Homo sapiens: one gene and its partners. The protein of the gene in region 2 purifies or fractionates together with the protein of the main gene of each other region. This does not show direct contact. Each region holds a gene or a part of one and is shown on either strand. Other genes may lie near its edges.

Region 1 (3,025 bases), about 11 Mb from region 2:
TGTCAAATGGAAAACAGAATTAGGAACCAAAGTAGTGGTGTAGACAAAAGGGGCTGGAACCTCAGAGGAGAGAGGGATCATGGGAGATTGGAACATCTCTGGAAGGTTAGGGGAAGAGATGACAAGTAATGTGAATCCTAAAGAAAGAGGATTAGTTATTGGGGGTGCTAAGTGTGGATGGCAAACTAAGGAAGCAGGGATCTGCATGACCATTTGGAGTCAGTAGGAAGCTTGGTGGAGTGGGAGGTGGGAGTCAAGCAGAGAAGGCCTCCCATGTCAGATAGGGAAACTGCACTTGATCCTGGGCAAGGGGGAGCTATGGAAGGCTTTTGAGCAGGGGAGTGATACAATGAGAACAGCATTTTGGAAGCCAGCATGGAGGGGAGGCTGCTAAAAGGATACAAGGCTGAGGTTATTACCATGCCCTGGGTGAAGAAATGCGGTCTGGGTTTGGAAAGGAAGGGATAAACATGACTTTTCAAAGGAAGACATAATTGCCACAAGGGCCACCAGAGAGCAGTCAAAGGTGTGTCCAAGGTTGGAGCTCTAGTGACCAAGAGAAGGGTGTCAACTTTGACAGAAATGACGTCATGTGTGGTTGACAAAATGAGACCACATCCTTTCGGTCATGATTCATTGTCTTTATTAACAATGTCTCTGGACTCTGGAAGAACAGACTGTTAATTCATAAAGCAATATTAACATTGTCATTCTCTACAAGAAAAACTTTTGCATAAATAACTTAAGTGAGAAAATAAATATGTAACTTAACTCTTTAAAAACCACTACTTTCATTCTTGTGGACAAGTCCCACGTGGAAGAATTGCCAAAAAAACGACCAGTCCTGCAGGCTTTCATATGTCATGTGCTTCTGTTTAAAACTTTTTTTTTTTAACAATTAAAAACTACACAGAAAGTAAGAGGTTGTCTGGAAATGATTTTCAAAAAGATTTTTGGGTGGCAGTATTATGCTCTGCAGTTTCTCAGCATATGTACAGCACTTGTAGTTTTTCCCCCAATAATATTCTTTTAGTGTAAGATATGCCATCACATGTAAGAGCAGTAAGAAGCTGTTTTCTAGGCAGAAATGTGTCCGTGAGTGGTGGGCAGAAGGCGGTGTCTCAAAAGGGATGTGCTGGTCTGTGAGTTTGTGATGGCTGCTCCCTCGGGCCTGCAAGGCCAGTGTCCTTGAACCTTTCACTTCTCTTCGGAAGGTGACTTTAAAACATGGCTATGGGTCGGGGGAGGGATGCTGCTCTTTGGGAAGTTGGGGCGGATGTGATTTCTATCCCTCCCACCACCCTCGGACCCTCTCCTTTTCTACCCCAATGGATGATGTTATTTCTTTGAGATGGAGGGGTGGAGGTAGCCAAACATCCGGGGAAGCCAGGCTGGGAAGCAGCATAGCTTCTTCCAGGAGTTTGTCAGCCGTAAATATGTCAGCCATAAATAGACTCTTTACTTTTTTTTTTCTGTTTGTTTTTCATCTTTGGCTGTCAGAAGAGAGCATCACAACTCTGAATTCTGGAAGTGACCTTGGCACTGAATCAATGCAACTGCATTCATTCTCTCTCTTTCTCTCTCTCTCTCTCACCTCTGCCCATTCAAAAGGCACTGGAGTCCTTGGAATCATATGCCAATAGTCTCCTCGAGATCCTATTCCCACCTCCACCCTCATTTTACAAAGTGGAAATTGAGGTCCCGAAGGAGAATTGTGTAGTTCAAGGTTACACAGCAAGTTAGTGGCAGAGCCAGGACTAGAAACCACATCTACAGTTGCCCCCAGTCTTGTGCTCTGGGCACGCCTCAGGCTTTCTGATGGGCAGCGAGGTGCAAGGGGGAATCTTATCCAACTTTCTTAACCAGTCCCTGGACTTTCCCACTCCCACACCGCTCCCTTAAAACCCCAGGGCGGTGAAAATGCTTCCATTTCTGCCTCCTCTGAAGTGGGACCAGCAAAGGTAGGCGGCCCCAGAGGCGGGGCTGCGTGGCTCAGTGTCTGTGACTCTCAATTCCCTCCCCTGCCCCGTGGGACCCCTCAGCTGGCGGGCTGAGGGGGGCCTTGCCGGCGCCCGGGATTCCTCAGGGCCTGGAAGGTCTCAGCCCCCTGCCCTGGGTTGCAGGCATTTACAATGAAATATAAACAATCAAACCACGCGCAGAGGACAGAAATGTGGGGCGCGGGTTCAGGGCCGGGGCGCCCGCCGGTGGGGAGGGGCGCGGGCGGGCTCTAGTAGGCGTTCTCCAGCTCGGCCTGGTTGGCTTTGGCGCTCCGGGCGCGGGGCCGCGGCTTCCGGCCCTTCTGCGGCCGAGCGGCCTCGGTCCCGAAGTCCTTGAGCTCCGACTGGTTGTGGAAGCGGGTGAGGCGCTTGCACTTGCACGAGGCCACCAGGCGCACCTTGCGCGCGCGCGGCGCCTCACCACCGGGACACAGCAGCTGCACGCGCTGCGCGCGGTAGCGGTCGGGGATGCAGCGGAAGTCGGGCCCACTAGGTCGCCACCACTTGCCGCGGCCGATGGCGTTGGGCAGCAGGCGCGCCGGGCCGCACTGGCCGGAGCACACCAGCTCGGTGACCGGCTTGGCGCTGCGGCACGGCCCATCGGTCACGTAGCGGGTGAAGTGCAGCTCGCGGCAGCTGTACTCGGACACGTCTGTGGAGAGAGGCGCGCGTGAGGGTGGCCGCCCGCCTGGCCACCCCTGCCCTGGACCGGCCCGTCTCTCTCCACCCCAGCCCTGCTTTTGCCAAGCCTGTCTCCAGAGGCTTTTGCCCCTGAACATCTATTGCAGGAAGGTCCCAGATGCTCTAGAGCTGGTGGAAAGCTCTCCTGCGCACCCTGTCCCCTCGGAGCCAAATGACTGCTGGGGTTCAAACACCAGGGCTCCATCGCTCACTGCAGGTGTCATCTTGGGCAAGTTCCTTAACCTCTCTCTTCTTCCTGTCTGCAAAATGGGCCGCCCCAAGCATTGCGAGTTAATCCATTACACACGCAATGCAGAAAATACCATTTGGCACATATAGCTGAA
Region 2 (3,971 bases):
CCGGTGAGGACATGCAGAGACACAGTCACCCTCCGCGCCTATCTCAGCCAGCTCCTTTCTCTAGTGCCCTGGAGCTGAAGCCACCTCCTCGAGACTCACAGGCCATCAACACACTGTGTGGGATAAATGGAGCAGGAAAAACAATGGGGACAAAACATGGCCAGAAGGAGAAAGAAGTGTGAGGGCAAAAGGACAAAGCAGGACCCTGGCTGAATTATGGCACGGAGCATTCTAGAAGTAGTCCAAGGTACTCTTTAGGATGGGCCTGTGAGCACCAGAACAGGTCCACTCTCTGGACAATGCCACACCCTCATCTTAGGACCCGTGCTGATCCTACTCACCCAGGCTCACACAGAAACCTCAACCTCCTGAAAGTGCTGCCTTGTAACCTGTATCACAGGAATCTGCCTGGCCTCTAAGTGGCTCTTAGAAGGCACAAAAAGCATGACAAAGGGTCTAGTGAATACCATAGTGCAGAATCTTTAAAACTAATGGGGAAGGAGGCCGGGTGTGGTGGCTCACACCTATAATCCCAGCACTGTGGGAGGCTGAGGCAGGAGGATCACCTGAGGTCAGGAGTTTGAGATCAGCCTGGCCAACATGGTGAAACCCCATCTCTACTAAAAATACAAAAATTAGCCAGACATGGTAGCAGGCACCTGTAATCACAGCTACTCAGGGGGCTGAGGCAGGAGAATCGCTTGAACCCGGTAGGTGGGGGTTGTAGTGAGCCAAGATCGCACCACCGCACTCCAGCCTGGGTGACAGAGCAAGATTCCATCTCAAAAATAAATAAATAAATAAAATAATGGGGAAGGAATGCCCAGTGCCCACCCAGAGCCTGGGATGTGGGTTCTTATAAAGCCAGGGGCTGACCATGTGGCTACAGCCCACTGGAGGCAATTCCAGAGAAGGCAGGGAACTGTTCTCAGCTGAGTCCCTCCCTGGATTATCTCCCTCCCACTCTCTCAACTCACTGAACTGCCTGGACTGAGTTCAAGCTGACCAGGTCGTGTATTCCCTCAGAGGAACTCACGTGGCAACTCAGGAAACTGGTCGTTTTTATTTGGTTAATCTTGAGGCAGAGAAAGGGCTGGTTCCTCGTGATTTACCTGGGGCCATGGCAACAAGGAACGTGTGGGCCCCTGGAACTCACAGCAGTGCCATTGTTTCAGCAGGCATACAGAGGTGCCCTCCCGGGTGGGCGGAGGGGCCAGGTGGCTGACGTGGAAAACATCCTGGCCCCGACCCTCTGCTCAGGCACGTCGGCATACCAGCCACCAGGTGGCAGCACAAACTTAGTACAGCCCTTGGCTCTAAGAAAAGGGCTTTATTTTTCCTCACGATATCAAGCCCAAATGAGGGGGTGTAGCTGTTGACTGCAATCCTGCTGGTTGCCTCCCACACGGGATTTCGCAGTTAGCCTGGAATCTGGGAGGTTGAATGCCATATGGCTTCAGCTCCCACCCAGTGCTGGAGGCTGCTGGCCTGGGCCAGGGATGGAGCAGTGGGCACAGCCAGAGTGGGTCCCCCAAGCTAGTCTCCAACACAGATTCAGGCAGAGACAGGGGTGTGGGCATCTGTGTGACATGTTGGCCTGGGAGGAAGGCGTGTCAAGGGGAGCTGGTATGTGGCTGGGTAAGAGGGGCGGCCACGGGCTCTGCAGGGCAGGGTCTAGGACAGGGTCAGGACTAGGCACCTGCTGGCGCTTCCCCAAAGCCCTCTCAGATGGGTCATGCTGCAGGTGGGGATGGTGGAAGCCCACCTTAGCTGAGAAGTCTCGGTATCTAAACCCTCCTGGTCACTCTGTAAATGTGTGGGAAACAAATAGCTGAAGTTGCCTGTGCACCATTTTATAGAAGAGCCCAGCTCTGCGGCTACCCCAGCTTCCAGCCCCTCTCTTCCCTCAGGGAGTGTGGGGACCTCGAAGCCGCCAATTGCTCACCTGGGGCTGATCCGCTTGGCCACCACAATGATGTCGCTGACACTGGCTGAAGTCTTCATCTTGGCCCCAGAGCCCATTGTCATGGCAACAAGCTTCTCTGTCAGAGTGTGACAAATCTAATGCGGCAGGGAGGAGAGAGATGAGGGCTGACCTGGCTCCACTCAGGGCCTCGCCACCCCCACGAGACAAATCAGCCCTGCCGTGAGTTCCATCGCAGCTGGCCCCCAACCTAATGGCCAGATGTGAAAAGTACAGAGATGAGAGGAAACGGGTGGGAAGTGGCAAAAGCCAAGGGCATGGCTGGGAGAGGACCTGGGGTGGGAGCCGCAGATCAAGGGCAGGGTGTGGGCTCTGGGAAGCCTAAGCTGAAATAATCTGTCTTAAGAAAAATCATGTGCTCCAATTTCACCTTCTCACTTAGGGGAAAAACCTACTTTCTTTTTCTATTCCTTCATCTCATGGTTTAGTCTTCCACAAGAATAAATATCTCCAACAAGGCACCCTCAGGAATGGGGCTGAACAAAGGGCAATTGTTCCCTTTAAGCACATGCTCCAATAACAGCACTTATTTCAACAATTGTCTCAGGTAATATATTAGCATGTTTATCAAGCTGATGATGAAAGGACCTTAGGAAAAGCAGGGAAAAGGCAAGACTGACTACAGCCTTCTTCGTGGTCCCACCCACAGAGCTGGCCACCCCAGAGCTTGCTTCCCCTTTCCAGGCCACCCCATGCTAGAACCAACCAACATGGGTGCGCCTCTATCCATGGCAAGGAAGCACCCCTACCTGACCTATACTTGGAGCTGGACAGTAGAGGGCAGAAAGAAGCCCAAAGGTCCACCTGGGAGTTAGCCCAGACCCCTCTCCCAGCTCCCACCACAGAGACTCAAGGGCAGGTGACCTAGCAAAAGAGTCTTAAGATCCCAAGAGGAGACTTAGAAGCCCTCTCCTTTGATCAGAGGTTCGCCGGGTAGACACAGATTCCAATTCAATATGACTCCCTCCAGCTGATTCATCTCACACCACAGGTGCCATTTATCCTCCTAATAGATGAGGACAGGAGACAAAACCCAGGCCCAGGACACATCTTGGCCAGGAGAAGGGAAATGTAGTATAGTATTATCTTCTAGCCATTATGCCTACCTAGCTCTATCAATAACCATATTTATATCTATAGCCATATTTGTATATCCAAAGAGCCTCTCAGAATTAACTAAGCCTGGACTCTGAGATAATAACTTCCTACTAGGCATTTATCCATCCCCTGAGAGAGACAGCCAAAGAAGAGGTGGGGTAAAGAATGTTTTATTAATAGTGTCTTCTACTGAATGACACTAAAGAAAAGACAAAGTTGTCTCTTTTGAAATCTTGAATAATTACTAGTCAAAGAGATAAATGTGTGATTACCCAGGTTACTGATGTAAAAAAAAAAACCCTGATATTTGCAACTGGCCAAATATTTCAGTATAGTTATTATTCTATTAGGTAGGATATTAACAGGCAAGAATTGAAAACAAATGCTAAAACCATAAAATTACCCAAAATGCAAATTGGATGCAATTTTTCAAAGATTCCAGGCTTTCAAAGAAAAAATCCTCTGCCTTCAGATTGAAGTATGCCTGCTTTGGTTTTTTAACACTGATTGTCCCATTTGGCTGACTACGGTCACAGCCAAAGAAGGCTAGTGATGACTTTCTAGTCACAGTAGAAATCCAAATACAGAAAGAAACTCACCATACAGGCCTGAACTCTCTGTTAGTGAAAATGAGTGTGCAGGGGGAAGCAGGGAAACCCCATTTCTCTTGGCAGCTACACGGTCTCAGGAATACACAGCTTTCTCCAAGAGGAGTGAAATGGTGGCTGTGTACCTAGGCTGTCTTTCCCACAGGTCATTGAATTAAGACGACCAGATGAAATAAAGCCTTTGAAACAGCCTTGAGATTCTGTGAACAGCCAGTCCAGGCAGGGGGGGAAGTAAACCACAAAAATTCCAAGTGTCAAGTTAAGGAAAGGCCTCTTGCGAG
Region 3 (3,971 bases), on a different chromosome or scaffold from region 2:
TCTCTATCTCTAGAAGCTACTGAGCCATTACATTTCTTTGTACATTTTTTATGTGAGCTAAAATCAAAATTTGCTTCTGAGGACCATTATACGATAAAAATAAAGTGTGGGATAAATCAGCTCAACTGAAGCCACATCCAAAGCTGTTACTCAGAAAACTTAGTATCACTGAGAGTATATTGGAGAGCTCAAAGTCTTACTCAGGCAGCTGATCAAAGAATAATGGTCTTAGTCACTGTAAGTACTTTTGGATACCTGGCATAAAGGATGTAATGAATACATGATTGAATAAGGATATATCTTAAGAATGCATTTTCATAAAAACATAAAATCAGTTGAGATTATGTAAATTTTGAAGAATGAAGAAAGTAAGTTATCATAGCTTCTTCTCAAGTTTTATTTTTATGTCTTACAAATATGGCTGGGCAATACAACACAAGGCTTCCTTTTCAGGAATTTGGAGAACTTATGCTTGGTATTTTAAACTCATGAGAACTTAGTCTAGAAAGGGCCTCCACTTATTTGACCACAGGTAGAAGATTGGCTCTGCTTTCTTCCTGTAATAATATTGGTTTCTATAGGTCAAATGATACACAGTATAATTTTGTGGCATTTTGATTACAAGTTTTCCATTTAAAAATGGACAAAAATCAACTTCTTACTTGAAATTTTGGAGGTAGTATGTTACCAAAAAAAATGGTAGTTCTTGTAAAGGTATACCTGTGTCTAGACATAAGTTGCAGGTTTAAAAATCAATAGATTTGAATAAAGTTAAAGTCTAGAAAAATATGCAATGTATACATGCGGATGATTAGTAAACCCTAATATCCAAATGCAATGTCAATAGTGTTACTAAAAATGAACTATCGGCCATTATTGCAAAACTGCCAACTGAGAATATTGATATAGATACTAACTGTATTTATTTGTTTTTTCAGCAATTTATTTTAAAACAATCTTGGATATATTTAGTTACATCTGGAATAAACTCAGGTATTACACAGGGCCTTGAAACATTTATAAAAGGGTATATTAAACCCTGCCTTTAAGAAAACTATCATCTGGTCGAGGAGGGACATTTGTCAGTTGAAGTTCTTCAACGAGCCTGGAGGGAATGTCGCAGTGTGTTCTGTTTGGAAAGTAAGTTGTACCCTGACTGCCACTATGGAAGCTGAAGGGGGAGATACAAGCTGCTGCCTTCCAGATATATTTAAGAGACACTGATTTTGGAATAAGTCAGTGAATAAAAATAGGGGCTCAGGACTCATCCGAACGTGGGGTACTGATGCTGCTCAGATTCACTGCCCTGTGTTCTAGGGAGGGTATCGAAGCCCAAATTGTTGCTTTCTGCAGGAAACGAGTGTTTCCTGCCTCGTTTCCCACTGGAGTTGCCACATGTTGTGTTTTGCAAGCCTACTCCATCGGGTGTCCTGGGAATTCTATGAGCCACCCCTATGTTCAAATACTTAACTTTTTTTTTTTTTTTTTTTTTTTTTTTTTGAGACGGAGTCTCGCTCTGTTGCCCAGGGTGGAGTGCAGTGGTGCGATCTTGGCTCACTGCAACCTCTGCCTCCCGGGTTCAAGCGATTCTTCTGCCTCAGCCTCCCAAGTAGCTGGGACTACAGGTGCGTGCCACCAGGCCTGGCTAATTTTTCTATTTTTACTAAGACAGGGTTTCACCATATTGGCCAAGTTGGTCTCAAACTCCTGACCTCGTATTTTTTTTTTTCTTCAACAGTCAGTATCTGTTTTCGTGCTTACAACCAATACCCCCAACTTTTACAGACACAAAAGCAAACATAATAGACTTATTATTCCTTGTTATGGGCACTCGTTAAACATTTACAACACGGAAACACATGTCCTTTTGTTCTGGAAAATGTTTTAGAGTGGATTCTAGGTTTCATGTATTCCTCCCCCTTTTTCTGGATGAAGGGAGACACCAGGATGGCAGTTGTGTGCCTCTCCTTCTAGCCCCAAGTCAAGCTTCTAATGGAGTCTTTCTAAGGAAGTTGACGTTGGTAGAATTCCTGCTGCATCACAGGGGAGTTTCAGGTCAATTTATGGTAAATACAGAAAAAGTCAGTCCCCAGAATGACAATTATTAGCTCTAGGTGGAAAAAAAGTTATGTAGGAGGGAAAGCAAAATCATTTTTACCATGTAGTTTAACTAAGAGTACTGGCAAGGTCATAAGAAATAAATGCCAAATATTGATATAATCATATTTTAATACAAATATTTCTGAAAGAGACATGAGAAGAGTATTTTATGTGGTGAGTTTGGGGAGAGAAAGACATCTAAATGAATAATGAATGTCTAAAATTGAAAAAAAAAGTATTAGTGTCATAAGCATGCTATTCAGAAAAGTGAACATAAATAAAATAATGAGTTAGAAGTAGTAAAATTTGTTGTCTCAAGGTAACAAAAATGAGGAAGGGCAAGGGACTACTATGTTTCGGGAAAAACAAAAACAAACAAACAAAAAACCTGTAAAGCCCTTTGACCCTTTGCACTACATGCACTTATAAAATACAAAGAACAAGGCCAGGAGTGGTCGCTCATGCCTGTAATCCCAGCAATTTAGGAGGCTGAGGCAGGTGGATCACCTGAGGTCCAGAGTTCAAGACAAGTCTGACCAACGTGGAGAAACCCCGTCTCCACTAAAAATACAAAATTAGCCAGGCATGTTGGCATATGCCTGTAATCCCAGCTATTCAGGAGGCTGAGGCAGGAGAATCACTTGAATCCGGGAGGCAGAGGTTGTGGTGAGCCGAGATTGTGCCATTGCACTCCAGCCCGGGCAACAAAAGTGAAACTCCGTCTCAAAAAAATAATAATAAAATAAAATACAAAGAACATTGCATTGAGATAAAAATTACAATGTATCATTGATTTGAATTTTTTCTGCATGTAATTCATCAGTTAATTTTATTCTGTAGAAATTTTTCCCTGCTATTTCTCCATGGCAAATGAAAGTAGTGATCGTGAAACATTGTGTTTTATTCATTCAAAACAACAGAATACAAGACAAAGGAAAATATTTCTATACCCTACAAGAACCAAAAATCCAAAAGTACACACTAACACTAGAAAAAGTGTTCTGAACAGGTTGACCATATAACTTATTCTAACAAGGATAATACGAAATAAACCAGAATTATCCCAGACATTTATTACTCATACTTCCAAATGGACCTTTTCTTACATCTTACAAGATAGTTAGTGCTCTGAATCTGGAAAAATATGTGTAAACCGACCTTGAGGATTTATAAAATTTCCTTAGAAAGCATTGCAGTTAATTCTAGAAGCTATTTTTCTACCTATTGAATCACTAGAAATAGAGAAGCTTTTAAAAAAATTAACTTGTTTTTAGTTTTCAGATACATGTTTTAAGAGCCCAGAGTCTTGGCTGGAAGAACTCTAATGAACAGATCAGTGAAAAAATATACTTATACAGAAGTCTGAAGGTGGAGATCAGTACTTTCTAGATGTTACATTTTAATAGTAGCTAAACTAATGATGACATGTTTATATTGTCTTATATTTTTTAAAGATATTTTCTTATCACTGTTGTGAAAAAGAAACTTTGTACTCACAATTTAGCGTCTCCACTTACACTTTATAAGCATCTTTATAATATCGTCAATCTTGCTGAAATTTCATATAAGCAGTACAAAATACAGTACATCATTATAAATCAAGGAGAAGCATTTTGGTCACAGTGATCTCTAATTACAATGTGGACTCTCTCAATTTAGAAAACTACTGTTATACAGCTGTAATTTTTACTTAATGCCATTCTATACAAACCAATATAACTTGGATGTTCACAATCCACGAATGCCTACTAAAAGTATTTTTACTTACTTTGTCTTTTAAATTGATAACCCATGTATTTTAAGTTTATATATATAGTATTTTAGTAATACACTGAATTACTTAAAACATAAATTGGAGTTTTTACTAAAAA
Region 4 (3,971 bases), on a different chromosome or scaffold from region 2:
ATATGCGTTCTCCAAGTTTCACTTTTCAGATCACTTTTCTCTATGTCTCTAGTCCCTTAGAATGATTGTTCAGACCTTTCTGTTGGAATAATTCTCAATTCTTTGTTTATGTGTCTTCTGAATCACGTTTTTTTGTTTGTTTGTTTTGTTTTTTCTTTTTTATTCAGTTGCTTTCTACATATCTGTACCTGATTGTTCTGAGCTGCTTTTCCTTAGCAAACTTGCCTCTTTGGTGTTCTTTATTTTTGTTGATGTCATACCAAACCCAAACCTTTTCCCATTTCATCATATCTTGTCTGTAGCCAACATCTGTTGATTCTGCTTTATGATATTGTAACTCTTCTGCTCTCTATTCTTGCTAACTGTGGGGCAATTCTGAATTCATATTGGTGTGAAGGTAGTAGTCAAATCATAAAACGAGTTGGGCAGCTTTCCTTCTTTTTCTCTTTTTCAGGATCATTTTAGACTGGGATTATCTGTTCCTTGAAAGTTTGGAAGACCTCCCCTATGTGACCATTTAGGCCTAGATCTTTTTTCTGGAGAGGACTTTGAGTAACACTTCAATTTCTTTAATAGCTGTTGGTTTGTGTCGATTTTCTGATTCTCATATGAATTTTAATGTTTCACATTTTTTTCAGGAATTTATTTTCAAATCTAGTGTTATTTGGCTTTCACGTAGTTCTCCCCCCACCACCCCGCGACTCCACCCCCACCCCCTAACTCTAAATCAAGTTCTCATCCCACCTGGACTAATGTTATGATTTTCTTGCCTTCACTTTTCTCCTTTATCTAATCTTATGTATTTCTGCCTAAATTAATCTGTAAGCCCAGTTCTTACCACTTCGCCACTCAGAAGTTTCCTAGGTCTTCCATTAAATGAAATATTTTCTGTGGTATTTGCCTCAGATTTACCTGTTTTTTTTTTTTTTTTTTTTTAATACCTTATTGTTTTTTCTTTCTTTCTTTCTTTCTTTCTTTTTTTTTTTTTTTTTTTTTTTGATACAGAGTCTCGCACTGTCGCCTGGGCTGGAGTGCAATGGCGTGAGCTCAGCTCATTGCAACCTCTGCCTCCTGGGTTCAAGGGATTCTCCTGCCTCAGCCTCCCAGGTAGCTGGGACCACGCCTGGCTAATTTTTGTATTTTTAGTAGAGGTGGGGTTTTGCCATGTTGGCCAGGCTGGTCTTAAACTCCTGACCTCAGTTGATCCGCTCGCCTCAGCCTCCCTGTGCTGGGGTTACACAGGTGAGGCACTGTGGCTGGCCTTTATAGCAGTTTTTATACAAATATTAGTTTCACTACTAGTTTGCAGGGTGGGTCTGTAACGGACTTTTCTTGCATATTAAAAGGAATAAATGGGGAAAGGCTCCTGTCTAGCCTAACAGTAGCTGTTGAACTGTCCTGATCTGACTATTGGATCTTAGGAGCAGCGAACCATGGAGAGAAAGGAAAATGGGTTTCCTATCACACTAAATTTTGAAGTAGGAACCATTTCTTTTCCTTTTCTACTTTCCCACCTTTTACTAGTTTTTAGGCTTTAGGATGTCTTTTTAACATCACAAGGTCCATATTGACCAAGTTGGACCAACTTTTTAACACAAGATTAAATGTTGACTTGCATTGAGTTATGTCCATTGTAAGATACACAGTAGTGTTACAGACCACTTAAAATATGCTTCTAGTTGTAAGAAGCCATTGATTGTAAGGTGCACCCCAATTCCGGAGATGCTAAAATATGAAAAATGGATGCATCTTAGAATTGATGAATAGTGTTTCTCTCCCTAATCAAAGCTCTTGGATGTGCCTGGAAATCCCCAGTAGTGTTTTTTGAAAAGAACACTAGTTAGGGGCATAGGGAGATCAGATGATCAGTAGACTCCATCTCAGGGTGGCCCCTGTGGTCCCTAAGCCAGTTCGTATGGGCAGTTTAATATATAACTAATGAGTAGACATTGAATAGATGAGTAAATTATCTTTGAGTATCTTTTATTTACTCTGATGTTGTAGACTTTGTTACTCTTTTATAGTTTTATATTTCTGATGAGCCTTCCTTTCTTATGGCACAGATTTGTTATACTGTTAAAGTCTGGAACAGTGGAGCTTGGCTCTTGATCCAGCTGTATATAATTGGCTGTTGACTTATGAAGGAGGACAGGAGTATGCTAGAGATAGGGATAAAATATTATAATCACATTTGCAGTTAGGGAGATTAGTTACATGTTGGAAAATCATTTTGAAGAAAGGAAGACTGAAGATGTTCAAACTTGTAGGAAGGTCTTTCTGGCCTAGCCCGGATTAAACCCATTTATGCCTAGTGTTCCACTATTGGAACGCTAAGCACGTGGGAGTTATTTATATCCTGCTCAAGGTCATCACCAAGGTCTGATTGCAAAAATTCAAAAAATTGCAGCCTCAGGCATAAATGGGTTAAGATGGTGGCAGATAATTAGGGCCTGGAATGGATAGGAGGCGATAACTAGCGTGGATGAGAGAAGGAATGGGATTGGCAAGAACAACTCCTGGATTTCTAGCTTGGAAAGCAGGGTAGATGTGGGTGACAGATATGAAAAATGAGGTGGGAGAGCTGGTTTGTAGAAGAAAATAGTATTGGATCACATGGAGTTTGAGATATCTGAAACAGCCAAGTAGGGATTTCCACTTGGCAGTTGTCTATATGGGTCTGGGGTTTGACAGAGGTTTGTGCTGGAGGTAGGCATTTGGGAGTCATTGCTGTATAGATTTTATATTCCAACAGTGGGAATTGGGTGGCTCTCTCAAGTGACTCTTGCTTACAAGTGACAGCCCTAACTCAAGTTAGCTTAAAGGAGGGAAAAGCTTCTCCCCACTAACCCCCATGATATTGAAAGGTCTAGAAATAGACATGGCTGGACCTAAGTGCTCAAATGATATAATTAATTGAGGTTGTCTTTTCTGTTCTTCACTTTTGTGGTCTCATTTCAGGCAGGTGCATATATCTGGCAGAGGAAGACATAGGTTATAGGTTATAGAATTACAGGTTATAGGTTATAGACCTCGTATCGAGAACTCCTTGTATGGTCTAGCAAAGAGCCTAAAACAGCATTGAGAATTTTTTTTCTTTCTTTTTGAGACGGAGTCTTGCTATGTTTCCCAGGCTGGAGTGCAGTGGTGCGATCTGGGCTCACTGCAACCTCCGCCTCCTGGGTTCAAGTGATTATCCTGGCTCAGCTTCCCGAGTAGCTGGGTTTAACAGGCGCCCGCCAATACGCCTGGCTCCTTTTTGTATTTTTAGTAGAGACAGGGTTTTGCCTCGTGGGCCAGGCTGGTCTCAACTCCTGACCTCAGGTGATCCTTCCGCCTTGGCCTCCCAAAGTTCTGGGATTACAGGTGTGAGCCACTGCGCCTGGCCAGTCTTGAGAAATTTCAACTTAAGGCCTGGGTAGAGAAGATAGACATTAAATAATTATCTAGTTGTAGTTATGTTAAGATCTACAAAAAGGAAGTCCAGGGAATGTTACAAGACTGATAAGGGAAGCTGGGCTGTTCAGGATGCGGGTACTTTGGAAGGCTTTCCTGAGAAAGGTAGCCCGCAGAGTGAGACCTTAGGCAAGAAAGGACAAGGAGACTGTTTTTGGAAGTATTCAGTAGTATTTATTTATTTATTTGAGACGGAGTCTCACTCTGTCGCCCAGGCTGGAGTGCAGTGGCGTGATCTTGGCTCACTGCAACCTCTACCTCCCGGGTTAAGCGATTCTCATGCCTCAGCCTCCCAAGTAGTTGGGGTCACAAGCGTGAGCCACCACGCCTGGCTAATTTTTGTATTTTTAGTAGAGACGGGGTTTCGCTGTGTTGGTCAGGCTGATCTCGAACTCCTGACCTCGTGATCCGCCCACCTCGGCCTCCCAAAGTGCTGGGATTACAGGCATGAGCCACTGCGCCCGGCCAGAAGTATTCGGTAAAGTGAGCAGTTTTTGCAGCTTTTTAAAAATTTTAAA

The links. The genes of interacting proteins can lie anywhere in the genome.
Region 1: the proteins of TMEM98 (region 2) and SOST purify together in Homo sapiens (co-immunoprecipitation; one large-scale study listed by IntAct). This does not show direct contact.
Region 3: the proteins of TMEM98 (region 2) and CD226 purify together in Homo sapiens (co-immunoprecipitation; one large-scale study listed by IntAct). This does not show direct contact.
Region 4: the proteins of TMEM98 (region 2) and BMPR1A purify together in Homo sapiens (affinity purification with mass spectrometry; one large-scale study listed by BioGRID and IntAct). This does not show direct contact.

Annotation. Positions count from the first base shown.
Region 1 is NC_000017.11:43,753,112-43,756,136, forward strand, and holds the end of SOST (sclerostin precursor), read right to left. Parts: intron 2,653-3,025; coding exon 2,231-2,652; 3' UTR 627-2,230; downstream 1-626. UniProt on the Homo sapiens protein: Negative regulator of bone growth that acts through inhibition of Wnt signaling and bone formation.
Region 2 is NC_000017.11:32,934,422-32,938,392, reverse strand, and holds part of TMEM98 (transmembrane protein 98), read right to left. Parts: intron 2,062-3,971; coding exon 1,946-2,061; intron 1-1,945. UniProt on the Homo sapiens protein: Functions as a negative regulator of MYRF in oligodendrocyte differentiation and myelination. Interacts with the C-terminal of MYRF inhibiting MYRF self-cleavage and N-fragment nuclear translocation.
Region 3 is NC_000018.10:69,857,248-69,861,218, forward strand, and holds part of CD226 (CD226 antigen isoform a precursor), read right to left. Parts: 3' UTR 1-3,971.
Region 4 is NC_000010.11:86,759,274-86,763,244, forward strand, and holds part of BMPR1A (bone morphogenetic protein receptor type-1A isoform 3 precursor), read left to right. Parts: intron 1-3,971. UniProt on the Homo sapiens protein: On ligand binding, forms a receptor complex consisting of two type II and two type I transmembrane serine/threonine kinases.